Linked DNA regions of Homo sapiens. The protein of the gene in region 3 interacts with the protein of the main gene of each other region in a biochemical or structural test. Each region holds a gene or a part of one and is shown on either strand. Other genes may lie near its edges.

What was found.
Region 1: the proteins of GNAQ (region 3) and BTK form a complex in vitro, tested with the Homo sapiens proteins (one study listed by BioGRID).
Region 2: the proteins of GNAQ (region 3) and GRM7 form a complex in vitro, tested with the Homo sapiens proteins (one study listed by BioGRID).
Region 4: the proteins of GNAQ (region 3) and PLCB1 form a complex in vitro, tested with the Homo sapiens proteins (2 studies listed by BioGRID, with this or other methods).

Annotation. Positions count from the first base shown.
Region 1 is NC_000023.11:101,375,782-101,383,750, forward strand, and holds part of BTK (tyrosine-protein kinase BTK), read right to left. Parts: intron 2,243-7,969; exon of another isoform or gene 2,078-2,242; intron 1-2,077. UniProt on the Homo sapiens protein: Non-receptor tyrosine kinase indispensable for B lymphocyte development, differentiation and signaling. Binding of antigen to the B-cell antigen receptor (BCR) triggers signaling that ultimately leads to B-cell activation.
Region 2 is NC_000003.12:7,675,406-7,683,374, forward strand, and holds part of GRM7 (metabotropic glutamate receptor 7 isoform a precursor), read left to right. Parts: intron 1-4,619; coding exon of another isoform or gene 4,620-4,643; coding exon 4,644-4,890; intron 4,891-7,969. UniProt on the Homo sapiens protein: G-protein coupled receptor activated by glutamate that regulates axon outgrowth through the MAPK-cAMP-PKA signaling pathway during neuronal development.
Region 3 is NC_000009.12:77,715,211-77,721,394, reverse strand, and holds the end of GNAQ (guanine nucleotide-binding protein G(q) subunit alpha), read left to right. Parts: coding exon 1-72; 3' UTR 73-5,298; downstream 5,299-6,184.
Region 4 is NC_000020.11:8,127,411-8,135,546, forward strand, and holds the start of PLCB1 (1-phosphatidylinositol 4,5-bisphosphate phosphodiesterase beta-1), read left to right. Parts: upstream 1-4,855; 5' UTR 4,856-5,241; coding exon 5,242-5,340; intron 5,341-8,136.

The DNA.
Region 1 (7,969 bases), on a different chromosome or scaffold from region 3:
AATATAATTTTTCAAACATTGTCCCACTGGGGTCTGTAACCAAGGGAACTAATAAGGATATGGAGGCTGCACCTGCAGTTCTGGACACACACTAACTGCTGCCCAACTGATTTTGCCCACACCCACTGACTGAGCTACAAAGGATAGAAGATTTGTTCTAAAGTTGAAAACATAATTTTTTTTGGTGGGTTTTGGTGGGGGGGGGGTAGTTGTTGTTTTCTGACCTTTTCCCCATTTAGCTTAAATTAGTTCTTTTAGACAGCATCATGCAAAAGTGATGCAACTGTCTTACTGATATAGATGCCACCTCTGTTCATTTATGAAACACAACTTATTTAGCCTCCCCAAACCTACAATACTCCAGAAGGATTCAATTTAGGTAACTGAAACACAGAAAGACAAATAAAGTTCCCAAAGTCACCACTGGCTTTTTTATTCACACCAAGCAACACTTCATATCAGTTATTCACTTACAGTTTATGCACAGTGTAATATTATTACTAATTCCGAACTTTCATTGGAAAGATAAAGTGAAAACAAATGCTGTCATAAAAATAGAACACTAGGCCGGCGCGGTGGCTCACATCTGTAATCCCAGCACTTTGGGAGGCCGAGGCTGGCGGATCACCTGAGGTCAACAGTTCAAGACCAACCTGGCCAACATGGCAAAACCCCGTCTCTACTAAAAATACAAAAATAGCCGGGCGTAGTGGTGGATGCCTGTAATCCCAGCTACTCGGGAGGCTGAGGCAGGAGAATCGCTTGAACCCAGGAGGCGGAGGTTGCAGTGAGCCGAGATTGTGCCATTATACTCCAGTCGGGGCAACAAGAGCGAAACTCCGTCTCAAAAAACAAAATCAAAAACAACAACAAAAAAACACTAAGTAAGTAACGAAAAAACCACCAGCCCTCCATTCAAGTTTAATTAGTGGTAGGGATTTTTCCTCTGGTGGGGGGGTGGGGGTGGGAATGTGTCTATTTTTTAAGTAAACTCCTTATGCTTTTGGTGGCACCGTGGAAGCAGAATGAATAAAGCCAGCAGTTTTTTTCTACTTTTTAAGCAGATTATTGCTCACACTAGGAAAGCAAGGGAGTGAATTTTATCAAAGCCTGGGGGCTATCCACACTGTTATTTTGCTCTTTCCTGTGGTGTAGGAGGTTCTATTCTCATGCTGGGGAGACGAAAATACGTCAAAGGAACACCAGGGGTGTTCTGGAAGATCGCTTTGCCACTTATCTACCATGTGTATGCCACTATCTTCTGGAGGTGGATTAATTCAATATTTTGTAAATTAGATTTTGAGAAAAATTGGGCAAGAGTGCAAACCTTTCCCTCCACCCTGCCACACACCCTGACTCCCTGGTTTAAATGGTCTCTCACTGGAGTGACAAATTGATGAGTTTACAATCAGCCCTTCCCAACACTCAGTTTTAGCTCTAAACTCAAAGAGGTTCATTTTAACATTACAATTATGCATTTACTCAGGAGTAGTGGTAACCAAATAATACTACTCTATTCTCAGGAACTACCAACTCATTGAGAGCCCTGTAATCATACCACAATTATTCTTGTGGCAAATTATAATTAAGTACCTCTTCACAATCAAAGACTCAAATTACAGGATAAAAAATAAAACCCTAAATAAATTGAGTACTGTGACCAGTAAATGGGGTCAGAAGCATCCCAACAAACCATGTCTGGTGTACTTCTCTTAGCCGAATAAATCGCAGGCAACATTTTATCTTTAGTTTTGTTGCAGGCTCTTGGTGGATACATTCCCTGCTTAGACCCACCATCTGTTTCATTCTTGTCCCCTGCTCTTACTTCCTATAAGACAGGTCCTTCTGGAAGCTGCCTCTACTCTTTCTCTGTTTTAGAACAAATCCAGTTTGTACAAGAGGAAGTCTTCCTCTCTCTCAAGTATCTGTGTTTGGGCAGGGTTTAGTGCTGCTCTGACTATGAGGAAGTAAGCAAGTCTCTCACTAGCCATCGCCCCTCTGAGCAAAAGGTGAAATGGCCTCCACCTCTAGATCATTGAGCTAGAGGTCTACCAGAATTGCCATGATTTGGTACCACCTTCTTTGACTGCTTTTCTCCTGTTTCTTATGATCCAGTCCAGACTCACACAGCCTGAAAATGTGGTAGCTCTTCCTTAGGTGCCACTGGTCCATCACTCAATAATGTGAAAGGAAAGGGATCCATTTTTGAGTCCTCCAGAAGGTTGGTGTGTAACACACAGCTCTGAGTTAAAAAGTAGTTAGAGGGTAAAGCTTCTGTGGGTACTTATTGTGAAAGGCCCCATTTTTTTTTTTTTTTTTTGAGACGGAATCTTGCTTTGTTGCCCAGGCTGGAGTGCAGTGGCACGATCTTGGCTCACTGCAACCTCCATCTCCTGGGTTCAAGCAATTCTCCTGCCTCGGCCTCCCAAGTAGCCGGGATTACAGGCGTGTGCCACCACACCTGGCTAATTTTTGTATTTTTAGTAGAGGTGGGGTTTCCCCATGTTGGCCAGGCTGGTCTTGAACTCCTGACCTCAGGTGACCTGCCTACCTTGGCCTCCCAAAGTGCTGGAATTACAGGTATGAGCCACCGTGCCTGGCCAGTAAAGGCCCCAATTTTTTTAAAACAATTTCAGTAGCCTACAGAGTCGGTTTGACCACAAAATATGCACAATGATGGCTAACCCTGAGCTCCACTCAGGGTGAAGGGTGGAAATGGAAGTGACTTGAATGTCTCAAACATACAGACACACACACACACACACACACACACACACACACACCACTGTTGTTTATAGAAAGAAAGAAATGGGGGAGGAGAAAAAATAGACACAGAGCTCTTCATTTAAAATATGGAGTTCCAGTGTTACAATGTCCCCTTTATTAAATTATAAATGCAAAGATTTTTACAGGGCCACCTTTTGCAGCCTCCCAGCTCCCTATGGAGCAACAGAATTCAGAAAGACGAAGCTTATTAACAAGAGTGCAGCCATCATACAAACTGCAGTATGCCAAGGAATTAATAGAAATAGCACTTGCAGAATCAGTAAACTAAACCATCTTGGGCTCTTATCTTCGCTCATAAGATAAAATACTATTAAGAATAATAAGTCCAGGCGCAGTGGCTCATGCCCGTAATCCCAGCACTTTGGGAGGCTGAGGCTGGCGGATCACTTGAGGTCAGGAGTTAGAGACCAGCCTGGCCAACATGGTGAAATCCCGTCTCTATTAAAATACAAAAAATTAGCCGGGCGTGGTGACAGGCGCCTGTAGTCCCAGCAACTCAGGAGGCTGAGGCAGGAGAATCGCTTGAACTCGGGAGGCGGAGGTTGCAGTGAGCCAAGATCGTGACACTGCACTCCAGCCTGGAGTCTCAAAAAAAAAATAAAAAATAAAAATAAAAAAAAAAAAGAAGAAGAATACCAGAGCAAAATTCAGAAAACTACACAGCCAGCCTATGATTGGGAAGAGTCTATGAGATATGATTTAAAATAAAATAACCAGTCAACTGTACTTCAAATGACTACTTAGCCAAAATATCCAAGAAGTAGTGTTTTCTCTTGATTTCTCCTTGAAAGCACTACTCAATTGGCTAGGAAGATTCTGGCCATTCCCTGTCTTTCCTTAGGGGGATGGAATGGAACTTCTGTTCCTTTCAGTGACTTCTACCTGACAGGCATTTTACAGGCATTATTTCATTTATTCCTCACAACAAACAGATGAGGAAACTGACACAGAGGTTATGTGACTTGTCCAACCTCATCCATCTGTAGCTCTTGGTATATCATCTATAGCCCTTGCTTTTTTTGTGGTGTTTCACTGCCTACCGGAGGGATTTTTGTTCGTTTATTTGTTTTTTGGTCTTTGATGAGGTTGATGCCATCTGCCTTGGGGCCCCTGTCATTCTCCATGGCTATCATCAAAGAGCAGTTGTGACAAACTCCTCTCCATTTTCTAGGAATGTTCAGCAAGAGAGGAAATGGTGGTAAATACAGGAGATAAGAGAGTATTCAAGATCCTAAGCTCTTTCCTCTGCAATATTCCTCCAGGCTGGTAAGGATGATCTGTCTCTGGTAACTGTCAACTATACTTTTTTTGCACTTGAGGACTCTTCTTAGTCTTGCCAGGTTTTCTTACATTTTCCCTCTTTAAATCATTCCCAAGGAGATTCTGTCTAACTAGTGAATTTCTAGAGTCACTTGTTGTTTCCTTTCCTGGATGTTTCATTGTTGATGGAATGAAAGCACAGTGTTTAGGTGGAACATCCACCCTTCTCTGTCCCTAGGGTTCTTATTGCTTACTGTGAATATAAAACTTTGATCAAATATACCTTCTATTTTTTTGAGACAGGGTCTCACTCTGTCACCCAGGATGGAGTGCAGTAGCAAGATCACCACTCACTGCAGCCTCCACCTCCTGGGCTCAAGCGATCCTCCTGCCTCAGCCTCTCAAGTAGCTGGGACTACAGGTGTGCACTACCACACCCAGCTAATTTTTAATTTTTTTGTAGAGACACGGGTCTCACTTTGTTGCCTAGGCTAGTCTCAAACTCCTGGATGCAAGTGATCTTCTTGTCTCAGCCTTCCAAAGTGTGGGGATTACAGGCATGAGCTGCTGCACCTGGCCTCAAATATACTTTGTTTTATATTATGAAATATTTCAAATAGAAAGTACAGGGACTATAACATTACAATCTTGGACTCACCGCTTAGCTCTACAAAATCCTAAAATTGTGCCATATTGCCTCACGTGTTAAGAAGTGAGATACAATCTATATAATCAAGACCCCTTTATGTACTCCAAAATCTTAGTCTTCTCCCTCCATAGAGATTACCAATATCTTGAGTTTGGTGTTTATCATTCCTAGGTATGTTTTCATATTATTATTACAGATGTAAGTATCTATAAAAGATATATAGTATTGGTTTACATGTTTAAAATTTACATATGGCCAGGTGCGGTAACTCAGGCCTGTAATCCCAGCACTTTGGGAGGCTGAGGCGGGTGGATGACAAGGTCAGGAGTTTGAGAGCAGCCAGCCTGACCAACATGGAGAAACCCTGTCTCTACTAAAAATACAAAAACTAGCTGGGCCAACGCTACTCTCCCAGCTACTCAGGAGGCTGAGGCGGGAGAATCCCTTGAACCCGGGAGGCAGAGGTTGCAGTGAGCCGAGATCTTGCCATTGCACTCCAGCCTGGGCAACAAGAGTGAAACTCGGTCGCGAAAAAAAAAAAAAAAAAAAAAGAAAATTTATATATATATATATGGTACACATTCTCCAGCAACTTGCTTTTTTCCCCTCAATATAATATGTTAGGATTTATTTATCTGGCTAGTTCTACTTCATATGTTTTAATTCATTTTTATATGCATAAAATATTCTATATGATGAATACATTCCAATATATTTATTCATTCTCCTGTTGATGGACATTTAGGTTGTTTGCTTTCAGTGATAAACAATGCTGCTGTGAACATTATTTTGATTTTTTGATCTCAGAATGAATTCTCAGTTACTTAGACAAACTGGCAAACCTAGGTCCAGCTTATCTTTTGGACTATGCAATTTGCATCATTCCTTCTTGCCTTTTCAGTCCTGTCTTCCTGATGCTTCACTATGAAATGTGGTAGAATTATCAACTATCTCTAGTGGGAGGTTAAATTTGGCCTACGGAAAATCTCTTCCCAGTCCCAAGAAGCATCCTTCACGTTCTAACTGAGATTTCAATTGAGAATTCCTTGGCCTTGGGACCAGAAGAGAACGTGTTAAGAACTGAAATACTATCTATATAATCAAGACCCCTTTATGTACTCCAAAATCTTAGTCTTCTCCCTCCTTAGAGATTACCAATATCTTGAATTTGGTGTTTATCATTCCTAGGTACGTTTTCATATTATCATTACAGATGTAAATATCTATAAAAGATATACAGTATTGGTTTACATGTTTAAAATTTACATATGGCCACGTGTGGTAGCTCATGCCTGTAATCCCAGCACTTTGGGAGGCTGAGGCGGCTGGATGGCAAGGTCAGGAGTTTGAGAGCAGCCAGCCTGACCAACATGGAGAAACCCTGTCTCTACTAAAAATACAAAAATTAGCCTGGCGTGGTGGCGCGCACCTGTAATCCCAGTTACTCAGGAGGCTGAGGCAGGAGAATTGCTTGAACCCAGGAGGCGGAGGTTGCAGTGAGCCGAGATCGTGCCACTGCACTCCAGCCTGGGTGACAGAGTCAGACTCCGTCTCAAAAAAAAAAAAAAAGAAAAAAGAAAAAAAAATCATACCCACAGCAACAAAGCAACCTTTAATCTTGTTAAATTCCCAAGATGCTTTTGTTCGGGCCCCAGTGAAACCCAATTATTTTATGATAAGCTTCATAGTCAAGGCTACAGGGGACCAAATTTGTGATGAAGGCATCAAGCCAAACTCAATTTTCGAAAGCTGCATGCTGACCAGGGAAACTCTCCTGCTGTAGTCATTTACAGGAGGCCTTAGGGCTCTCTGGTTCTTCCACAGCAGTTCATGTTTTATTTATTTATTTATTTATTTATTTATTTTTGAGACAGAGTCTCGCTCTGTCATCCAGGCTTCGGTACAGTAGCGCAATCTTGGCTCACTGCAATCGCTACCTCCCAGTTTCAAGCAATTCTCTTGCCTCAGCCTCCTGAGTAGCTTGGACTACAGCCGCACACCATGACACCTGCCTCGGCCTCCCAAAATGCTGGGATTACAGGCTTGAGCCACCGCGCCTGGCCTTATGTTTTTAGCATTTTACATTTTTCTTCTGTGGTTTTGGAAACTTCTAGGTCTCTGTGATTCATCATCTCTTTTTGTCTTGCATTAGCGACAATATATTCTGGCCAACTGATGATGGAAGGAGAGCCAGAGAGCCAATCTGCAAGTTTATAGTCAGTGCCAGATCAGATCAGTGGTAATACTTTCAATATTCTCCCTCTGCTCTGAGGGTGACTGCTGGGGTGTCTGTCTTTCACTCTGGACTTGTGTGCCCTTTTGGCCTTCTTTTTCAACCTAGTTTTTGTTTTCCTTGGCTTAAACATTTTATTTATTTTTTCCATCGATATCAAAATAACACACGCAGCTGGGTGCAGTGGGGTGCACCTGTAGTCCCAGCTACTCAGGAGGCTGATATTGGAGGATTGCTTGAGCCCAAGAGTTCAAGGTCAGCCTGAGAAACATAGGGAGACCCCCATCTCAAAATAAAACAAAATATAGTAAAATAAAACATGCTTATTGTAGAAAATATGTCAAGTACAGGGATATAAAAAAGAAAAAATCATTCATAAACTCATCCAGAGGCATTAATATATCGGCATATTCCTTCCATTTTTTTCTGTGTGTGTTTCTTATAATATTTGAGATCATATTGCACATTCAGTTAATTTACCTATTTTTCGTAACATCTATGTATGTATGTATGCATGTATGTATGTATCTATCCATCCATCCATCCGTTCAAGGTACCTTTTTCCAAAAAAAGATCTAATGTTCTTATTTAACATTATTCCTAATTATTTTCCCATGTTATTAGGATCTCTATACAAGCATCATTTCCAGAGTCAAAAAAGTATGTGCATTTTGCATTTTGATACATACTGCCAAAATAGTTTCCAGAAACATTGTCCCAATTTCAGTTCCAAATAGTTTTAGAGAGCCCCCTTTCTCATTATCCTTATCTCTTTTCTGGTCCATTTCTAATCATTTTTAAAACTCTGGTTTTACTGCAGACAAATCTTTTTTTTTTTTCATTGAGTCAATGATCTTAAACTCCAGTATATTCCAACTTCCAGCTTGTCTAAAACTTAACTTCTCTTGACTCTAGAATTTCCTTCTTCTAGGGTGAGCTAACAGACTACAGTTTGTTTTCAGTTCAGGGAGGTAGGGCAGTGAGAGGAGCTTCTCCTTGAGATTCAAATAACCAATATAATCCTAAAGACATCTTGTGAG
Region 2 (7,969 bases), on a different chromosome or scaffold from region 3:
GAGCACTATGTAACAAGTTTTCAAATTTCTTAACATCCTAGCAATTGAAAATTAGACACGGAACTCAGTTAGCACTAAATGTTATATGATCTTATAAGGCAATAAAGGCATCTTGTGATATGCATTCATATTTTATCCAACAATGAACTATTTAGGCCAAGATGAGAAAATGGCATGGAGCATGTTCAACTGAGCTTTGCCTGGCATTGAATTCACCACATATTTATGCACTTTAATAGAATATTTGCTGGTACATTTCTATCTGACTAGACATGAATAGGAGTGGGCTTTATAAACACTATTACTTAATCAACAACCTATACATAAAGAGTTTAAAATATATAAAGTGGTTACAGTGAAAGCCGTATCCTTAGATCTAAACCCCAGAAACCTAACCTGGCAGAAAATAAATATTAACAGATAACATTTCCTGGGTACTTATTTTCCAGGCTTTCTGCTAAACCATTTTCATATATTAATTGGTTACTTCTTCGTAATGACCACATGAGGTACAAACTATTATGATTTTGATTTTACAGTTCAGAAAACTGAAAGACAGAGAGAATAGTTATAGCTATGGGTTCTGCACATCGGACTTTTTTTTTTGTCGCCCAGGCTGGAGTGCAGTGGCGTGATCGTGATCTTGGCTCAGTGCAAACTCCGCCTCCTGGGTTACAAATAAAGGAAAGTGATGTGAAATACCTAACCTTAAACAGGGCAGTGCATTATACAATAAGCATCAGGTAAAATAATAACCATGGGACTAAATATAGATATGCTAGAATTTACTAAAGAATGTACTAAAGAAGATGGTGGGGTGAAAACTCATAACTTCAGTGTGAGCCTCCTACCTCACCAAAAGCCAAAGAGTCAGTAGCCTAGCTTCCCTGCTAGGCTTAGTGGGAGCAGGTCCCTGGGGACCAATACCTCTGAGATCTCTGTGGACTGAAGCCTTCTTAGCCTTCATACCTACATATAGTCATGTGCCACATAATGACATTTTGATAAACAGATTATATTTTTATCATGCTTATTCTTTGTTTTAATTAATTAATTAATTAATTATTTTTGAGATGGAGTCTCACTCTGTCTCCCAGGCTGGGAATGCAGTGATGTGATCTCCGCTCTCTGCAACCTGTGCCTCCCAGATTCAAGTGATTCTCTTGGCTCAGCCTCCTGAGTTACTGGGATTACAGGCACCCGCCACCACACCTGGTGGGGTTTTGCCATGTTGGCCAGGCTGGTCTTGAATGCCTGACCTCAGGTGATCTGCCCGCCTCGGCCTCCCAAAGTGCTAGGATTACAGGTGTGAGCCTATGTTTAACTATATTTAGATACATAAATACCACTGTGTTACAATTGCCCACAGTATTCAGTATTGTAACATGCTGTAAAGGTTTGTAGCCTAGGAGCAATAGGTTAAACCGTTTAGCCTAGGACTTTAGTAGACTATGCCACCAAGATTTGTGTCAGTACATTATGATGGTTGCACAATAACAAATTACCTAATAATGCATTTCTTAGAACACATTTCTGTCATTAAGTGATGCATGACTGTACTTATTAAAAAATAAGGCTGGGCATGGTGGCTCACGCCTGTAATCCCAGCACTTTGGGAGGCCGAGGCAGGAGGATCACGAGGTCAGGAGATCAAGACCATCCTGGCTAACACGGTGAAACCCCGTCTCTACTAAAAATACAAAAAAATTAGCCGGGCGCGGTGGCACGTGCCTGTAGTCCCAGCTACTCAGCAGACTGAGGCAGGAGACTCGCTTGAACCCGTGAGGCAGAGGTTGCAGTGAGCTGAGATCGCACCACTGCTCTCCAACCTGGGCAATAGAGGGAGACTCTGTCTTTAAAAAAAAAAAAAAAAAAAAAAAAAAAAAAAACTTACATATTACTTATTAATACTATGTGCTAGGCCCTACACTAAACACTTTACAAATACTTATTTAACCATCAAGCAAGACAACATTATGAGGTAGGTACTATTTTTATGCTCATTTTGCAGATACCGAAGCTGAGGAGAAGTAATTTGTCCAAGGTCACAAAACTAGTAAATGGGAATTGAACTCAGATAGACTAGCTCTAGAATCTGCATTCTTATCCACTGTGCTATGTCAAGAGGATTCAGGGATGGAGGGGCTGTAGAAAAAATATGATTAGTGAAGTTTATTTCAGTTTTCACATACTTTCGAAGTGTCACCAGAGACTGCAAAATTTTTTAAATGAAAATCAAAGTCTTGATGGTCTCTAGTTTAAAAATGATGAAACTAAACACTTCATAAAATAAACATGATAGTTGTAGAGTCCTAAATTGCTAAGTAGTCTTTGTTAAGAAAAAGTATGTATGTTACTGGGTACATAGTCAAAAGACAACAAATTGTTCCACCAAAAGACGCATGTACTCACAGCACTTTTCACAATAGCAAAGACATGGAATCAACCTAGGTGCATCGACAGTGGGCTGGATAAAGAAAATGTGGTACATATATACCATGAAATATTATGCATCCATAAAAAAGAACAAACCATGTTGAACTGTAGGCCATTTTTCTAGGTGAATTAACACAGAAACAGAAAATCAAATACCTCATGTTCTTACTTATAAGGTGCAGCTTAACATTGGGTAGTCATGGAGATAAAGATGACAGTAGACACTGGGGCCTAATAGAAGAGTGGGCAAGGGTTGAAAAAATAAATATTAGGTACTATCTTCAGTACCTGAGTGTGGAATTATTCATACCCCAAACCTCAGCATCATGCAATATACCCATGTAATAAACCTGCACATGTACCCCTGAATCTAAAAGTTGAAAAAAGAAAACATATGTGTACACACATACAAATATACATAAGCATATATGCATGTATAATTTATAATTATAAATAATAAAACAAGAAGTCTGAATAATTTCATCAACTGCAAAATTCACTCATAAGCAGAGAAACAGAAACAAAACCTAAGATCCCATAGGTTTGTTGACATCCTTTTCCTTTTTGAACTAAGCCATGGTTTGCAAATCTCTCATAAGTACGGTGACAGTGGTGACAAAAATTGTCTATGTCTATAAAGCCCTGTGACCATGTAAAGCCTTTCTTGAACAGTGTAGGCTGGCAAGGTGGAATGACATTAAAAGTCTAAAGGTATGCTAGTAGGGAAATATGAACTTTAAAAATATGAACTAATTTACACTTTAAAGAGTCATTAATTCAACATTGTTTTGTCTTTCTATGTTACATTCATTATGTATTATAGTCAGCAGCTGGTAGCTCCTTTTAACCGTTTGGAGACATACATATTCAAATTAATGTTGGCTAGAAAACTGTATTATTTCCAGACGAGATGGCAAAGTTGTCTTTGATTTCACTAGGGCCTCTGTTTGAAGAATTAAGATCAGAAATGTCCAGGCAGCCAATATGTCTGATGGAAATTTTTGTATAGCGATAGGCTGTTTAACCAGTGAGTTATAGGTAGGAAAAAGGTGTCCATTAGACAAACACATGAGCCTATCCATTGTATGTTTATCAAGTGCCTTCTTTGCAGACAATAATAATGTCCCAGAAAGACAGATCCTGCCTTCATGGAACTTAAGGCCTAGCAGGAAAATGGGCAGAAAAATGATCAAGATACTGAGTGCATAATTACAACAGAGACAAATGATCTAAAGAAGTCCTTTGAGAGTGTATCAGTAAAGAAGCTGGCCTAGACTTGAGGCTGTGAGTGCGGGCAGCCTGGGATGGGCATGCTAAGAAGAAAAGGAGGAACGTTCCATACGTAGGAAAACAAAAATAAAGAAAAGGGGCATGGAGAAAAGTTCTGTGATTGAATGAGTACAGTTCATTCATGATCTAAAGGACAGCCCAAATGGACGGAACCCTGGGAAGGCAAGACAGGGGATCAGGGGGTCAGGGAGTTGGGAAATAGTGGACAATTAGTCTAAAACAGTAGGCAAGCACAAACCATCCAAACTGCAAATAACACAACTCCAGAATAAGGCGTTGCATCTCATTAGTAATTTGACAATATAGAGTAGACAAGCCAACATCACTAGATCTTGTTCACTTGTCACTTGTGTTTTATAAGACAGAATTAAGCAAGAAGATCTTAGTTTTCAGAGAAAGTCAACTCACTATTCAGCAGATAGGGAAAAGGCGTGCCTTTCTAGAAAACAATATAAAAAGAGACATACATTAAGATAAAGACTTCTCAAAAGGCCCCAGAATCTCAATGTAGGAAGAAATCATGGAGTGTGAACCCTCTTTTACATGTATGAAAGATAAAACCTAACCACACCTTAATCAAGATTACAGATTTCTATGGTCTTCATGTCTTTATATTTAGCTGCCACTTCAATTAGAAGTCCTTCAAATATGATTAAAGGTTTACTCTGAACTTTAATATAAGAGACTTCTGTAGGGCAAGCATGTGCATGGATTGACCCAATAGCATTCAATCAATTAATACATGCATATGCTCTCCAATAACTGTGCAGAGTTATTGTGCTTTCCTTTATTTATCAAAATGCCCTGAAGATTGCTTTATCTCCTAGCCATAGTCGTTCTTGACATCGCTTTAAGTGTTCAGACCCCTACTGCAGTCATTTTATTTGTAATAGTGCCTTGTGTGTTGTGTCTCCTAGCTCTACATACAAACTACCACGCTTACAATCTCCATGAACCTAAGTGCATCAGTGGCGCTGGGGATGCTATACATGCCGAAAGTGTACATCATCATTTTCCACCCTGAACTCAATGTCCAGAAACGGAAGCGAAGCTTCAAGGCGGTAGTCACAGCAGCCACCATGTCATCGAGGCTGTCACACAAACCCAGTGACAGACCCAACGGTGAGGCAAAGACCGAGCTCTGTGAAAACGTAGACCCAAACAGTAAGTAACTCTCCGTTTCTTTCATCTTCCCACCCTGCATCAGGAAGCTCTAGAAGATGTGGGGTGTGCTTGCCTCTCTGGAGAAATACTGTGATCGTTCTTGTCTTATGGGCTGGGTTGCCTTGGTGAATGCCAGCTTCTGCTCTTTTGAGTTTGACTCATTCCTGCCACCATTTTCTTTTTGTTCCTTGTTGGAAAGAAGCTTTTGGAGGCTCTGCTTCAGAAGTGTGAAGCCTCCCCCTTCCCTTGCTTCTTGTCCTCTGGTACTGAATCCTCCAACTGACAAATGCACCTATCAGGTTGTTCTTTTCTTGCACCCTTCCTGCTAAGGCAACAACTTTTTGTCAGGGAAACTTCCATACTTAATGAACTGTATCGGTGGGAATTAATTAGGATTTTGGAAGCGAAACTTTTTTCCTCTAGCATGTGAATGTTGAAAAAGTTATTTTGTACTAATCAGGTCTTCTAGAAACATATAAAATATTGGAAAAAGTTGTCAAATCCAGGTACACAGGGCCAGACACTACCATGATAACGGCATCATACTGTGGGGAAAAACATATCTACCATACCACTGGAGAAGAGTTTTATTCTATGCAAGACAAACCTTAGGGAAGAAATCAAGGAAAAAAAACATTGGATTTAAGATGCTATTATATGGCATATCTGCAAAACTCTAGGAGCCTTTAGTCATGCATGCAAATGTCCCCAGGTAAAATGGGCATATAGCTATCACTTTGTAAGTAACACAAGACCAGCTCAAAGGTTAAATGCTTAGAATTCCCAATTGCTAACTTTACTAACAATATGGTGGTAAGAGTAAATTTCAGATTTAAAATACTAGTTTTAAGATTTGTTTTCCAGGAATATTTTGGCTAGTTGCATTTAGAATGAGGCAGATTCAAATATTTGTGATACTTCCTGTTGTTTAAGGCAGAAGGGATTTCAGGTTATCCATTAAGTCATTCACGACATACTGTATTTCAGTTAGAAGCTGATCTTGGTGTCAAATGCTTAATGCCAAATAGAAGGAAGTCTCAATTTTAAGTACTCTTGAAGAAATCCTTTTTGCTCTGCAAATAAGAGAGATATCTTTAATAAAAACCAAGAAGCCAACTGGGTTTGATCCTGACAAACACTACACAAAGAACTGTGATTTTGGCCTGTCTCTATTTATGAATAGTTGAGTGAATGTCGTGAAATACTTTGAAAATATGTAGACAAAGTAACAAGGTTAATTAACAACATTGTGGGCTCCAGTTTGACTTTGTGACAGAAGTCCTAGGACAAGTCTAAAGGAACATACTGAGAAGGGAGGAACAGAATGAATGATATAGGCTCTGTTGTGTCTCCAGAGCAAGTGGCCAATTGAGAGGAGGGCAAGTGGATGGTGACTTGCTGTGGCATTCAGTGTGATGTAGGAAGAGGCTTTGGGTTGAGACATACCTGGGTTCAAATGTAAACCACTCCATTTACCAGCCATGTGGCATTAAGAATCACTGAGCTTTTCTAAAACTCAACATAATTATGTATAAAAGAGATAATAACTATGTCATAAGTGTATCACAAAATACTATATTGAGAAAATACTATATCAACTAAATGTCAACGTCTTTCCCTTCCTGAAGAGGCAAAAAGCTTTGCTTAGAAATAAGTTTCAGCATAATTTATTAAGATATAGTAGCTAAAAAGATGCAGTTAAGTGTAGATTAAACACCACAGGGTAGATAAAACTCAATCCTCAAAAGAAGAATTTATGGCTGGGCGTGGTGGCTCACGCCTGTAATCCCAGCACTTTGGGAGGACGAGGTGGGCGGATCACCTGAGGTTAGGAGTTGGTGACCAGCCTGACCAACATGGAGAAACCCCGTCTCTACTAAAAATACAAAATTAGCCGGGCATGGTTGCGCGTGCCTGTAATCCCAGCTACTTGGGAGGCTGAGGCAGGAGAATCGCTTGAACCCAGGAGGGCAGAGGTTGCAGTGAGCTGAGATCGTGCCATTGCACTCCAGCCTGGGCAACAAGAGCAAAACTCCATCTCAAAAAAAAAAAAAAAAAAAAGAAAAAGAAAAAAAAGAGAAGAATTTATATGAACATATGTGTGCATCTATTATACCTATACCTGTATTGATAAACATATATGTATATTTATAATTAGTGGCTTTTTATTATAGGTTGTCTTGTCAAATTTGCATTTCATAAAACCTTTTCTTGCAAATATTCCAATAACAGCTTTATTTTTGTACACACACACACACACACACACACACACACACATTTAACTAGATACTGTTCAAAGTCAATAAGCAGAAAACATAATTGGAGGGCTATATTTACTGGGGAAAAAGACGAAATTAGAAGTTTTGAGTTTAGACAATTCAATACTATGCTACTTAAGAATTGTTAACTTTCAAAAAACATTACTACTGTTGCTATTTAATGATGAGGTGCAATCCTTGTTGAGGCTTTTTTGGGTATGACATTGGTTGTTAAAATGCTAACACTGACATTAATGCTAATGCTTGCATAAGGTACTCATTGAAATAGGCATTATGCGGAATGCTTTGTGTGGAATGTCCCACTTACTCCTCACAGTAGATCTATAGAATAGATATTGTTATTCTTATTTTACTGAGGAAACCTTGGCTTCCCAAGATTAAGTAACATTATCAAAGCCACACATGTGGTTAACAGCAGAGGTTGGACTAAAGCCCAGGTCTGACTCTTCAACCCACGCTTGTTCCTCTTTGCTCCTCTGTTTCTTAGAATATGAATGGCATGTCGAAATTCCAATGCAGGAACTATGCTTTTGGTTTCCTTATTTGGTAATATCATTTGTATATGCAGAATATAATGATGTTTGGTGGGAGATTCTTTAAACATACTGTAACGTATTATTGCTTGTTTTGTCTACAAAGACAGGAGTAACCTGAGCTCAAAGAAGGCTGCCCAGGTAGAGGCCTCATTTGATTAATTTAAAAATTGTATTCCAATGATTTCATTTGGTATCTCTTTCCTTGCAAAAGTTTCACTGGGTCTTTGTTGTTGTTCTAGTGTCTACATAGAGCCAAGGTAAACA
Region 3 (6,184 bases):
ATCCGCTTTGTCTTTGCTGCCGTCAAGGACACCATCCTCCAGTTGAACCTGAAGGAGTACAATCTGGTCTAATTGTGCCTCCTAGACACCCGCCCTGCCCTTCCCTGGTGGGCTATTGAAGATACACAAGAGGGACTGTATTTCTGTGGAAAACAATTTGCATAATACTAATTTATTGCCGTCCTGGACTCTGTGTGAGCGTGTCCACAGAGTTTGTAGTAAATATTATGATTTTATTTAAACTATTCAGAGGAAAAACAGAGGATGCTGAAGTACAGTCCCAGCACATTTCCTCTCTATCTTTTTTTTAGGCAAAACCTTGTGACTCAGTGTATTTTAAATTCTCAGTCATGCACTCACAAAGATAAGACTTGTTTCTTTCTGTCTCTCTCTCTTTTTCTTTTCTATGGAGCAAAACAAAGCTGATTTCCCTTTTTTCTTCCCCCGCTAATTCATACCTCCCTCCTGATGTTTTTCCCAGGTTACAATGGCCTTTATCCTAGTTCCATTCTTGGTCAAGTTTTTCTCTCAAATGATACAGTCAGGACACATCGTTCGATTTAAGCCATCATCAGCTTAATTTAAGTTTGTAGTTTTTGCTGAAGGATTATATGTATTAATACTTACGGTTTTAAATGTGTTGCTTTGGATACACACATAGTTTCTTTTTTAATAGAATATACTGTCTTGTCTCACTTTGGACTGGGACAGTGGATGCCCATCTAAAAGTTAAGTGTCATTTCTTTTAGATGTTTACCTTCAGCCATAGCTTGATTGCTCAGAGAAATATGCAGAAGGCAGGATCAAAGACACACAGGAGTCCTTTCTTTTGAAATGCCACGTGCCATTGTCTTTCCTCCCTTCTTTGCTTCTTTTTCTTACCCTCTCTTTCAATTGCAGATGCCAAAAAAGATGCCAACAGACACTACATTACCCTAATGGCTGCTACCCAGAACCTTTTTATAGGTTGTTCTTAATTTTTTTGTTGTTGTTGTTCAAGCTTTTCCTTTCTTTTTTTTCTTGGTGTTTGGGCCACGATTTTAAAATGACTTTTATTATGGGTATGTGTTGCCAAAGCTGGCTTTTTGTCAAATAAAATGAATACGAACTTAAAAAATAAAAGCTGGTATCTTAAAATGTAAGAGAGTAAGACTGTGAAGCCTAAAATGACTGGCTGAGAATGAACCAGAAATGCCATTTGCCAAACAGTTGTAACTAGAAATTTGATTCTCACGGTCCATTCTTTTCTTTGTCCTTAAGATGACATTGTTAGTGTTCACGTCCCATGTTCAGTGTCCAAACCGGCAATGTAAAAAGTATCCTGTGTGGTTTAACAGGAAATCTGTTTATGTCTCTTTATTTGAAACCAGTTTTACTCTCAGTGGTTCTTTAAGTTCAATGAAGTCTGCCAGGAACATTGGTTGGTAGTATTATTCCGACACCTTTAATTTCCAAAATCTGAAGTTCCTGCTAGTTTACCACCTTCATGATCTTCTTGAACTGGTAACTGATTAGGTTGAACTTATGGAAGATTTGTGGACTTAACTCAAAAGTAACCTCTCAGTGTTCTATAGAACATGTATTTGTGTAACTGAACCTACCAGGAGAAATGTTTGGAATTCTATATGTGCAATTTTTCAACAAATGCAAAAAAAATACAGCACATGTATTGACAAGCTTCTGTCAAGCAGCTTGAGTTGAAATTTGATTTAAGAAAATAAATCATGATTGTTCAAAGCTGCTGGGACGTTAGAATTAGGCCATGATACTGGTCTCATTTTAACTACAGTGGTATTTGGCACTAGTGTAAACTTCCATATAAATCACTCTTTTGGAACAACAAAGGGGGAGGGAGAAAAATCACGGCCTGTTAAATGAGTACCAAAGCCGCCCAACAGTAATGAGATGTTCTCATCCTTGATTCTCCCAGCCTCAAACAACACAGCTTACTTTTTTTTTCCCTTGCTCAGAAAGTACCTGTAATTTAACAAACAGACTGCCTGTAGGTATAGTGCAATTACAAATGCTCTAATCATTGTACATACATCTCTCTTGATATTGCAGCATCCATACTGGCTTTGTAATCATTAATTTTTTGGCAGATTGAATGTGCTGTATTGATATGTATCTATGTAATTGTATTGTATGTCTATAGCTAATTCACGTTTTGAATAATGTTATTTTATTTACTTTTTTAAGAGAGGAGAATGTAAATTTGTCAGTTTATTTCTGACTAGGGATATTTTCTTTCCATTTAGAAAAGAAGAAAAAAAAAAAACCTTACTGTCATACAGAGCGGTACTAGCGTCGTGCTGTATAAAATCATTTGCACATTCCTGAGTAGAGGTATACTGATTATAAGACCCAAAGGTAATTTCATAGCAAAATACATAAAATCAGTCGGAGCTTTTATACAAACATGGAAACCAACTTTGTAGAACTTTTGCCATTTGATCTAGGATTGGAATATGAGCTTTTATACAATTCATATTCTTATTTGGCAAATGCACAGTTTAGTATTACCTCTCTGATGGCCTTTACTAGAAAGGCAGTTTTAGAAGCTATTGTGATCCACTAAGGAAATGTTTTAACAGCTAGAGACCACTGCTTGCCTGAAAGGGCGTTCTTAAATTTGGTGCAGCAAAAAAAAAAAAAAAAAAAAAAAAAATTAAACAACAACATTTGAAGGCCTACAGTGTGTATAGAGAAAACCTCATCACAAGATCATAAGTGTTACAGTTTTAGGGAATCAAGATATTCTATTTAATAGAGCTATAGTAAATGTAGTCAATTAAACCTGATCTCAAAGCTTGAAGAAGCTGAGCAAAACAGGGAAAGATTGTTATATTTGTCTTTATGAAATTGGGATGGAATTTGCTATGCAGAATTGAGGTTTGTGGCTTCGCTGTTCCTGTAGGGTGCATGACAAGATCCCTTCTCTTGAGAAAGGAAAAAATTGATCACCCTAGCAGCAGTGATGCATAGAAACCTAATTTTAGCCACACCAGTCAATCGAAGCTAAAGGATTTTCTTTTTTGTTTCTTCGGGGTTTTATTGAAGGGGCTAGGGGCGGGACGGGATTCTTTTCAGTTTTGTATAAAAACAAAGTTTACTCATGCTTTATATTATATTGTGATTGCAAGCGTTATAAGCGTGTGCCACTGGCCTCCTATTGTTGATGCTTAGGTAATGGAGGCCTGTGGTGAGTTTTATGGTGACTTGGGCATGTCTTATTCAAAAACAAAAACATAAAACACAGAAACCTTTCTTCAGCATACCAAGGCAAGCAGCCATTTCATGACTCACTTAACACATTGCAGTGTACCAGTTTACAGATGATTTTTCCCTTTTTGCGTGACATGGCAGTTCTAACCCCCAGAGAATTCCTTATTTGTAAATTGGAAGTTTCTACTATGCCTTACAGAGCTTAAATTCAGAAGTTTGTGCCTCATATCTGAAACAAAGGGAAATAACACACCCATTCAAAAGTAAATAAATCTCCTAGAAGTTTTTGTTTTTAACATTTCCATATAAAGAGCTCTGTTGAATGTCATGAATAGACTGGAAAAAAAAATTTTAAGAACCTGCATATGTTGTTTACTAGCAGATGACAACTACAAAAGGAATCTGAAGAACACGTAAAACTTGTATTTTTTTTTTTTTGGTAGATTAACTAGCAGGCCTATTTTAAAAAGGTAATTCAGCTAAAGGGCAATTTACTTTTTTGTACTTCAGACTATCTTGATTGTCAAAGTGTACGAACTGTAATTTTAAAATTTATACTGCCACATGATTGTAAATTTTAGTTGTCTTAAGTTAGGAATTGGTGAAAAGCTATTTATGCTGGATTTGGGTCAAAATGACTTATTTGCAAAAAAATAAATAATGGGAAGAAAGGGCTGTATAATGAAATACTGCAAGACTCACATATTGGTTGGAAATTTCCCTCAAATCACCTACCGATTACCCTTGATTTCCCTTTGTTTTCAGTTTCTCAAAACGAATGAAATGAAATATAGCAGAATGTTAACCCATATAAAAATAAAGTGTACCCAAATATTGTAATGTATATTGCTGCTCTTCTTCAAATTAAATAAGGGTTTAAAACCACTTAATTGGTAATCAACATCTCAATTGATACAAATAAGGTGTGCTTGGTATACATTAATATTTTCTTCCAAAGATATATCTTTGGTTAGAAACACAAAAAAATAAAACTAGTAATATTGTATGTTTATCTATCTCTACATATTTCCAGCATATGTAGCGTTAATAGATCTGTCCTGGTAACTGTGTCTTTGGGATTTCATTTTGGTTCCATCAAATTAGGAAAAGAAATGGCTTAGTTGTATATGATTAGCTAGAGATTTTTGGAGCCAGACACCTGCTGTTTAGTAGATAACTTAGTACAGACCCTAAACTTGTCATTTGTTTTTCTCACAGAATAGCCATTTCCTGCTGTCTTCCCAATGATCACTGCCCTTTCAATAACACTCTTGCCTCTAGAATCATATGTTCAAAGTATGAATACACACCTAGCACATAGTAGGTGCTCAAATATTAATTTCCTCCTTGCCTTCCTTATCTACCCTGTGTCCTCCATTTCCCCGTATGATTCCAACCCAATATAGCAAATGACATTTACATGTTATGAAAACATCTATTGGGTAAAATCAGATCTTGGATAAAGAAATTCTGACTTTTATATAAGCTTTTGGTAGACAGAAAAAACAGAAAGGTATTCGTTGGTAGAACATTTTTAAGTTCAGGAAAGAAAGCTGGAATAATACTACGTAACTTTGTCCAGGTTACTTTGACTGAAACACGTTTTTGGTGGATTTCTTTTCCTCAAAGAACTCTCTAAATGCAACTCCTTGCTGGATTCCTCACCCATCATCCTGTTGGAAACCCTTACTAGACCTATGTATTTAGGGAGTTTTGTCAGAAAACATTTTTAACTTGCAGTATTTAAAAGAATATTTACTGTTCCTAAAATGTCATTCAAATGCATGTACTGTCTATTGTTTGGGGATGGGAACTAGTTTTGCAAAAAACACCTAATGTTGTATAATAATGCCCCAATGATCTTGCTGGTTAAAAATACAGTATTTTTGGCCATAATTTTGTACTATAGTATTCTTCATTGTTGAGTTTTGCTTCCATTAAAGTTGCCCGAGCCCCTCTCAGAATGTTTTGTATTAGTAGGAGTACTGAAATACATCTTTCCTTCCTTAACACACCTTGTGCATATTGCATTTTCCAAAATAAACAAGTTTAATGGTTTCAAAAAAAAAAAAACACCAAAAAACCTTTTCCCTTCTGTGTATAATCAGAAATAAGAGTCTCCTGTAGTGGAAATACACATATTGGTAGCATTTATCAAATTTGCTCTTTGAAAAAACTTGCCTTAATTTAGGTTATAATTAACTGGTTAAAAAAAAAAGTAAATACCTATCCAATAAAGAAAGGAGCCAGCAATCTTCAACCTGAGGCAGTCTCCCAATCAGTAAAAAGAATCCACACATCTGCCCTGGTTTACTGGGTAGCACACTGGACTCAGGCCAATGGCTGGCTTAAGAGTTTTGCCCATTTCAACACTGGCAGTGAATAGGTAGACTCCACATGGGAAAAATGACATGTCACAGGTGTCCTCTCTGAGTTTTAGAAACACATCCAGGCTTTTGAGGTCAGCTAAAAATCAGCTGCTCCTGGGAGTTTTATTAAGTGGAGGTGATGGTGGCAAGTGGCTTTCTGGAAAATAGGTACTTTTGTGGGGACTTTAAGCCACAGCAAAAGCAAAACCTGTTCCTGTTACTCCAACTGGCAGCCAGCCCTTGCTTATGGATTTTTGTTTTTCAGAATATGTCCCCTCTAAATACTAAGAGATGAGAGTGTCATTTTTGCTTAAAGGCCTTCAGCTCTCCTTGTGTGATTTAGAGACCATTTCCAGTAGATGGTATTCTCTCTCTCTGTCTTAACTGTTCAAGGAATGGCGTGGCACTGACTGTCATCTAGCACAGGCCTGGAGTGATGGTTCCCACACCCTAGTTCTGCAGAGACACTGGAGTGTTAAGCTATACAGGAGCACTCCCCTCTCTTTGGCCTTCTAACCTGAGTTTGACCCCTTTAGGACCATGATCTATTTGTACCATCATTCCAAAGACCCCCACCCAGAGGAAAAAAC
Region 4 (8,136 bases), on a different chromosome or scaffold from region 3:
AGACAAAAATGAATATGATTAAAGTTTATAGAATCAATGCAGCCAAAAAGAAGTTTACTAAATCACAGACCACAGAATTAGAATGCTGTCTTTTAAGACTAAAAGAGTTATTTAGGGCATAGAAAGGGAATATAGTAGAATTTCAGAATAACCATATGTGTGTTAACTACTATTGATTACCGCTGTGACAGGGACTTAGATATATGATTTCATTTAATCTTTGCAATACCTCTTTAAGACAGCTTACTGTGGTGGTTAAATATGTAGGCTCTGGGGTCAAACTGCCTAGTTTAAATTCTGGTTCACTCACTTACTAGCTGGAAAATGTTGAACAACTACTTAACACTTCTCTGACTCAGATTACCCAGCTATAAAGTGGAGATAATAGTAACCCGGCTCCTAGGGGTTAATATGACAGTGAATGCATTAAAAATGTAAAACCCTGAGAAGAGTATGTGACATAAAAAGCTTTGACATTATTATTATTTCTCCATTTACATATTAGGACCTTGTATTTCAGAAGAGATAAGAGACTTTCCCACGGTTACGTACGTAGTAATTGGTAGAACTGGCTGTTAAAAGATATGTCTATTCAAATCAAAACACTGTCCTTCCCACTGTGGCAGGCCTCAAGTGAGTTATGAGCTGACAAGAGACTGGAGTACATACCACAATCTAGTTTCTAGGGAAATTAGGACTATTTATATTACACTGTGGTTAAAAGGAGAGAGAAACTACTCATATCTGCCTTATAAGTTGTAGAAGTATCTACCATGGTAGTTAAGAGTCTAGGTTCTAAAGTCAGACTTCCTAGGTCTCCATCTCAATTCCGAATTTTGTAACTGGAGGAGGTTAATCCATCCTCCAAACTTTAGTATATAAATCAGTAAAATAGCATACAATAATATTATCTACCAGATCAGCTGAGAGTAACAATAAAGCTTAAATAATAAAGAGATTTATTATCTCACTCATTAAAAAGTCTAAAGAAAATTTAAAGGGTTTAAAAAGCTCATGAAGGACCAGGTTTCTTTGCATCTTTCTTGTCAGTGTCCTCTTTACATAACAATATGAGACAGAGAAAGAGAATTTCCCTGAAGACATTAGTCAGAACTGAGCCCCTCATATAGCTCTTAAACCAGTTACAGACAAAGGGGAATGGAATTATTGACATTAGTTTAGGCCAATCATAGTTTGTTCCTTGGAAAGAGAGAGGGGCCATGTTTCCTAAGCATGACGACCACCCAAATTAAGTCAGGGTTTGCTTACAAGAAAAAGAGGGTGGAGAGTGGTGTTGAATAGGAAGGGTTATGTTTTTTAGTGTCTGGGAAGTGCTTAGCTTAGTGCTCTGACCCACAGTGAGTGCTCAATAAAGGTTAGCTTTGCCAGCTCCCTGAGGCTGACATTCCCAGAGGGCAATTCTGTGCTCTCACAAAAAACAGACCTTCCTATTGTTTCAAAAAACAGTACACAGCACCGAACTTGACGGATCACAGGCCTGGCTCACACAATTTTGGATTTCTTACAGATCCCTTTGCATAGCAAAAATCTCCACACTTGGACACAGGAAGGGGAACATCACACACCGGGAACTGTTGTGGGGTGGGGGGACGGGGGAGGGATAGCATTAGGAGATATACCTAATGCTAAATGATGAGTTAATGGGTGCAGCACAACAACATGGCACGTGTATACATATGTAACTAACCTGAACGTTGTGCACACGTACCCTAAAACTTAAAGTATAATAATAATAATTTAAAAAAAAGAATGGGAAAAAAACAAAAAAACTCCACACTTTAGAAACATTTCTATCTTGTATACTGAACAAAAGGTGTGGAAAATGAGGGAGTTAAACCATGCTGCTTCAAGCATCATGCTACATGTTGAAGGTATTTATCCTGTAGTTCTCCTTTAACAAACTGCGTCATTTTGCTGGCTGAAGAAACTCTTGCAGCCCATGTTTGTCTTGAAGACAAATCCTGTTCAGATTTCTACAGCGTTCTCTCCTTTTTACGTCCACGTTCACAGCAACAGCTGGGAGGAATCAGGGATGCTAGATGAAATACTCAACTATCCATTGCCAATAATGGTGGTTACCAAATGACTCCCAACTCAGTGCCATTCAACAATGAACGTTTATTGTCATGTTCATGAGTCTGCAGGTTGGCTGAGTCTGGGAGATCTAGGATGGTTTCTACTGGACTTGCTTCCAAGCTGTAAATGGGGCTTAGGTCTGTCCTGATTGTCTCCTTAGATCAGAGGCTCCCTGAGGCATGTTTATCTCATGGAAATGATAAGAAACCCAAGAGGGAAAGCCCAACCTCAAAGCATATTTTGAGCCTTTGCTAATATCACATCTTCAAACATGCCATTGGCCAAAGCAAGTCACATTGTCCAACATCAATGGGATGGATAAATAAACAGGGTGTCTAGTAAAAACTGTAAGGTCACAAAGAAAAATGTGTGGACGCAGAAAGGAGCAGGGAGCAGAGAGCTATGATGCAATAAACTACCACAGGAGGCTCAATCTACTTCTTATTTTGCTTAGAGCTCATTGTAACTCTCCAATCTCCTCTTCTAGTGAGCGCAGCCCTGTCTTGCCTTCCTAAGCCACTGTGACAGGTAAAAACTATTTGGCCAATAATCTTTCCAGTAAATAACAAAGAGATAGAAGGAGAAAAGGAAAAGAAAGGAAAGGAAAGGAGGAAAGGAAAGGAAAGGAAAGGAAAGGAAAACAATTTGGTATGATCAGTTGTAAGGACAATTGAGAAGTTCTGGAGCCCTGGAAGCAGAGTTTCATTGCAGTACTCTGAAGTAGAGAAAATCGACTTGAGACGGTGACTGATACCTTCTGTGAGGTAATTAGCAAGCCAAGGCTGCTGGCTAGAGGGACTGTGGACCATTCAGGTTTTAGTTTAGGGACATGTGATCAAAATGAAACCAGTCAGTTTTTCATGAAATTCTTTGTAGCAATTGGCTTCCAAGCACAAGGCAAGACCCTCAAATGACAGCAAGAGTCATGGGTCTTGTTCACCAGGTTATCCATGGTGATTACAATAGTGGCTAGTATACAGCTGGCTACCAATAAGTATATTTTAAATGCATTGAAATATTTAATAGCAAATTTCTGTATTGGATTTTGGTAATCTTTTGACTGAGTTCATAAGCATTGGGCCTTGGAGTCCTGAGGGCAGAGAACAGGGAGAATGAAGGATTAAGAGAATGTAGTGTTTCTCTCCATTTTTCTCTCTTCGTATTCTTTCTTCTTTTTAAAAATCAACCTTTTTGAGATATAATTTATTTAAAACAAACTGCACTCAATTTAGGCGTACTTACAGAACTTACAAGTTTTGATAAACACACACACGATATAGAACATTTCCGACATGCTCATCAGGTGCTCGTAGCCCTTCCCTGTCCATCTCTACCTATCCCTGGCCACAGGCAAGCTTTCTGTCAACATAGAATATCTTGCCTATTCTGCAATTCCTACACATGGAATCAGGCAGCATACAGTCTATCGTGTCCGGCTTCTTTTACAAAGCTTAAAGTCGCGATTCATCCCTGATCTTGCATGCCCACTCATTTTTATTGTGGAATAGTATTCCAATATTTGGGCATACCACAGTTTGTTTATCCATTCACCTGTTGATTGACATTTGCAGGCTACTAAGAAGAAAGTTCTTCACATCACTTTACAAGTCCCTGCAGACTTGAACGTTTTCATTTCTTTTGGACAAATACTTAGGAGTGGAATTTCTAGGTTGTATGATAAGTAAATATCTTACTTTATAAGAAACTATTCTCCAAAGTGGTTTTACTATTTTATATTCCCTCCAGCAATGAACAAGAGTTCCAAGCTATTTCTCTCTCCGCCCCCCCACCTCCCGCGTGTGTCTCTCTCTCTCTCTCTTTCTCTCTCTCACACTCACTCACTCTCTCTCTCCCTCTCCTCTCTCTCCTTAATAAAAAAAAAAAAAGAGTTCCAGTTGCTCCACATCCTTTCAAGCATTTGGTATTACCAGTCTTTAAAATTTTATCCATTCTGGTCCTCCTCTTTCCCTTCTTCCCTCCCTCCCTCCCTTTCTTTCTTGAATTGAGAAATGTTTGTGGAAGGAGTGAAGACAAACATTCCTGGACCTATGTTCCTAAATGAGCAAGTTTCTATTAATAAGACTCTCCCCCACCCGCCACACATCCTACACACTCAAGGAGAGGAGCGGGAGAGGGCACCCTCTTTCTTCCTCGGAAAATAAAACCTTTGCTTTCTTTAGGATGGGCTTTCTGTCTCGAAAGCACAACGTAACCGTTTGCCCGGGTTTCAAGATCAGCGCGCTGCAAACTCTCAGGCGCGGCCAGGTTTCCTCAAAGAGCCTCTCAACTGCGCTCTTCTCTGCTGATAAATGATAATTCTCTTCAAAAAGCTGGTTTGTGGCTGGCGCTGGAGAGCTCCAGCTAGAGCCAAAAGCCAGGGGTTGCCTCTTTGGTTCCTCCCGATGGGCCCCTTTTCCCAGCCAGTTGGGATCCAAAGACGCTCCGGAGCTCGAGCCCAAATTCCCAAGAAAACCCCAAAGAGCGTAAGGCTCCTGGGGACCCCTAGCACCTCTGCAACCAGGGCACGGGGCATGCTCAGAGCGAATGCGGGAGGCAGGCGTTGGCTGCAATGGGGCTCGGGAGCCAGGAGGTGCCGCTGCGTCCCCGCTTCCTGGCGCCTGACCCAGCGTGCAAAGTTGGGCTGGGAGCCGCGGGGGGAAGGAAGGACCCAGCGAGCGAGGGTGGCGGGGAAGGGGGGCGGGGGGGAGGAGGAGGGAGGAGGGAAAAGAGCGGTTAGGGGGGGCGCCGGGCGTGTGTCACTCGCTCTCTCCCTCTGTGTATAGAGGATGTGCTGAATGGTGCGCTTTGAGGCGGCGGCGGCGGAGGAGCAGAATCCGCCGCGACTGGCAGCCTCGGCTGACCGGCTCGGCTTCTCTTCGCCTTCCGAGGCTCCTCATCCACCGCGGGCTCCAGACCTCGCGTCCCGCCCGGGGCATGGCCGGGCGCTGCGCCCCCGCGCGCTCTGCCTGCTGAGCGGCGCCGGAGGGAGGTGCGGAGGCCGGGAGGCCGGGGAGGCCGGCGGGGAGCAGAGTCGAGCGCCTCCGGAGCAGAGAAAGGAGCCCGCGCCCCGCGCCCCGCGCCCCGCGCACGGTCCCCAGTCCCTGCCGCGCTCGCCCGGGCCGCCCGGAGCCCAGATGAGCCCAGATGGCCGGGGCTCAACCCGGAGTGCACGCCTTGCAACTCAAGCCCGTGTGCGTGTCCGACAGCCTCAAGAAGGGCACCAAATTCGTCAAGTGGGATGATGTAAGTATTGGGGCGGCCCGAGTCGGGGCGCTGGCTCGGGCACCGGGCAGGGCGGGCGTCGTGGGGGTGGGGCAAGGGGCGCGTTATGCAATGGGCGCACTGGGAGCGGGCAGGGGCAGCCTCGGGCGCACAGGTTGGCATCTGCCAAAGCGGATGTCCAAGGGCAGAAGCTTTGCGCGCGCTCCTGTTTCATCGGGCTTCAGTAGTTGCCATCCTTTCTGGGTCTGGCAGGCGCCCCCTGAGGGTCTTACATCTTTTGGGCCAGTGGAGAGGGAGGGGCAAGCTTTGCCTGGTGACAGGTCCTGAGAGTTCGGAAAGTAGGGAGTGTGAAGTTGGGACCAACTGGAAAGCGCCTGGTGTGAACAAATCGCGTCCCTCTCCGCCTGCGGACGCACCCCCTATTACCTCTTTTGCCCGATTTCAAGAAGGAAGGACCTGAAGTTCAAAACACTTTAGTGATTGCGAACCCTCTTGGCGCTTTTGTGGGAGCCAAGGCGGCGGAGGACACAACGGTCCAGCCAACAGGTGGTCGTTGATGCCAAACTTCAGCGCCTGGCTCCGGAGTGAGGGTCCCTGAAAAGGGCTGCGGGGACACATCTGGGGAGGGCGTGAACAGAATGGGGGCCCTTGAGGGGTCCTGGAGGGCTCATGGGCCTGCAGGCAAGTGGGGAGGGCTGACTTTTGAGAACTGAGCTGATTGGAGTCTTCTGCCTGAAATAGACAGGTTGAGAGTTTGCCCCACGATTTACCTGCACCGTTTGCCAGGTAGGGCAGAGCCTAGCCCAGCGCCGGGGTCTCTAATGCTTTACGAGCGGCCCAGACCCCAGGACTTCAAATGACTTCCCCTTCCCCTCTACCCCAGTTGTCTTCAAAACACGTAAATTAGTTATCCAGCTGAAAACATGCGAATCTTCGGATGGAGAACATTATGGTATCAGTTTTATGTCCTGGGTGTCATTCTAAAGGTTCGATAAGAAAAACCTACTGAAATAAACCCGAGTTGCCAGGCTCTAAGCAAATTTAAGTCCAAATGACTAATACATCTCTTAATCAGAAGGAATTATAGGAGAATGAGGCGTTCTTCTTGCCGAAAAGATTTTCCACCTAGTAAATTATAGCCTGTTATCCTCTAGGGTATTTTTCTTTAATCTTCTTAAGCCATTTTCCAGTGTCTGAAAACAATTTAAATATTCCAGGTAGTGAATCCAATTACTTAGCTGAGTGCGTCTGTGTCTATATTTTGTCCAGCTGGAAGCGCAAACGGAACTTGGAGTATGAACCACAGCTTCCTTGAAAGCTCGTGCCAATTATTAAATGCTGTAGGCAAGGATGTAAACATACATCTTTTTACCATGGGCTTCACACTTTTCTTCTTTCTGTTCCAGTCTAATTGTACTGAATGTTTCTGTAAATGGAATAGAATCTAAACAATAAATTCAGACGCAGATTAAATGCTTTGTGTCAGGGAAAAAAAAGACAAAGAAAATGCAGTTCAGCAATAAACAAGACGGTCTTGCCCATTTTGAGATCCTTGAATAGAGAGGTGATGTGATGATGGATTTACTGAGAAAGAGAGTGAAGGGCAGAGGAAAGAGAAAGAGACTTTGCAGAATTTAGAAAAGGGAGTTTCAGCGTAAGCTCTGGATTTGTATACAGTGATGATTCTAAACTGTATTTTAAATAATTCTCTATAATTTCTTGTTTGGGAGAGAATAGCCAACATCACATTGAGAATGAAAGTATTCTATGAAAACACATTTTGGTATATCCAGGTAGATGACTTTCATTATGTGCATTTCTGTAACACATATTTCTTGCTCACCTATTACTGCCAATCCTAGACTGGATTCTGGGGTGGTGAAAAAAGTAGACAAAATCCCTGCTGTTACGGACCTTACATGCTAGGTGGAGGAGACAAAAATCATCAAAAACACCAATGAGAGAGAGATTGGGTGATGCATTGAGGGTAATAGAGAGGACGTTAGTGAAATACCAACCAAAGAAGAAGTTGAAAAGAGCTCCTTCTGAGCATTGCAGCAGTGAGTTTCCAAGGAAGCCCTCCTGAAAGAAAGGACATAGTCACTAAGGAGAAGACCAGAAGAATTTCAGGTCTTTTTTAAAAAAAAAAAAAAAACCTAGACTGCACTCAGGAGTCAAGTTATCTGGAATATAATGAGCTATCTTGCAGGCTCTTTGGTTCTCTGGGTCTTCATGCTGATCAGTGGACTACAAGGGACCCAGCCTTTCTTAAGGTTGCCTTTCTCTTCCCCAGGCATCCCTTTTCTACTCTTCTCAGCTCGTATTTGCCCTTCCAGAATCAAGCCAGTTCAAGTTATCTGGCTATTTATATTGTACCTTAGTGAGACAGTGTGTTGAAGACAAAAAAGAACCAGATCTTGAATCAAAGGCCTGAGTTTACCTCCTAGTTCTTTCACCAGTAAGCTGCATGACTTTAGGCAAATCACTTAGCTTCTCTGTATTTTTGCTGCTTCTTGTGTAAAAGCGTGGTAATGTTACAGGACATTCAAAAATGATGAATTTGGGGCTGTTTAGGATGTGAAGAAATTATCTCTTGTTCCTGAAGTGATTAAAGCAGTATAATCACTGGTCTTGTTGTCTTGACCACCATATGGAATGGAAGATGTCACCCAGAGGTTGCAGTGCCATGCATAATTTGCTGGCCACCTACCAAGTCACAGTGAGGCTGTGGATGCTCTAAGGGTGGTAGTCGAAAGCTTTAACATAGGCACTAAACAATCACAACAGACAGCAGGGGGGTAATAGATCCTGGAGATA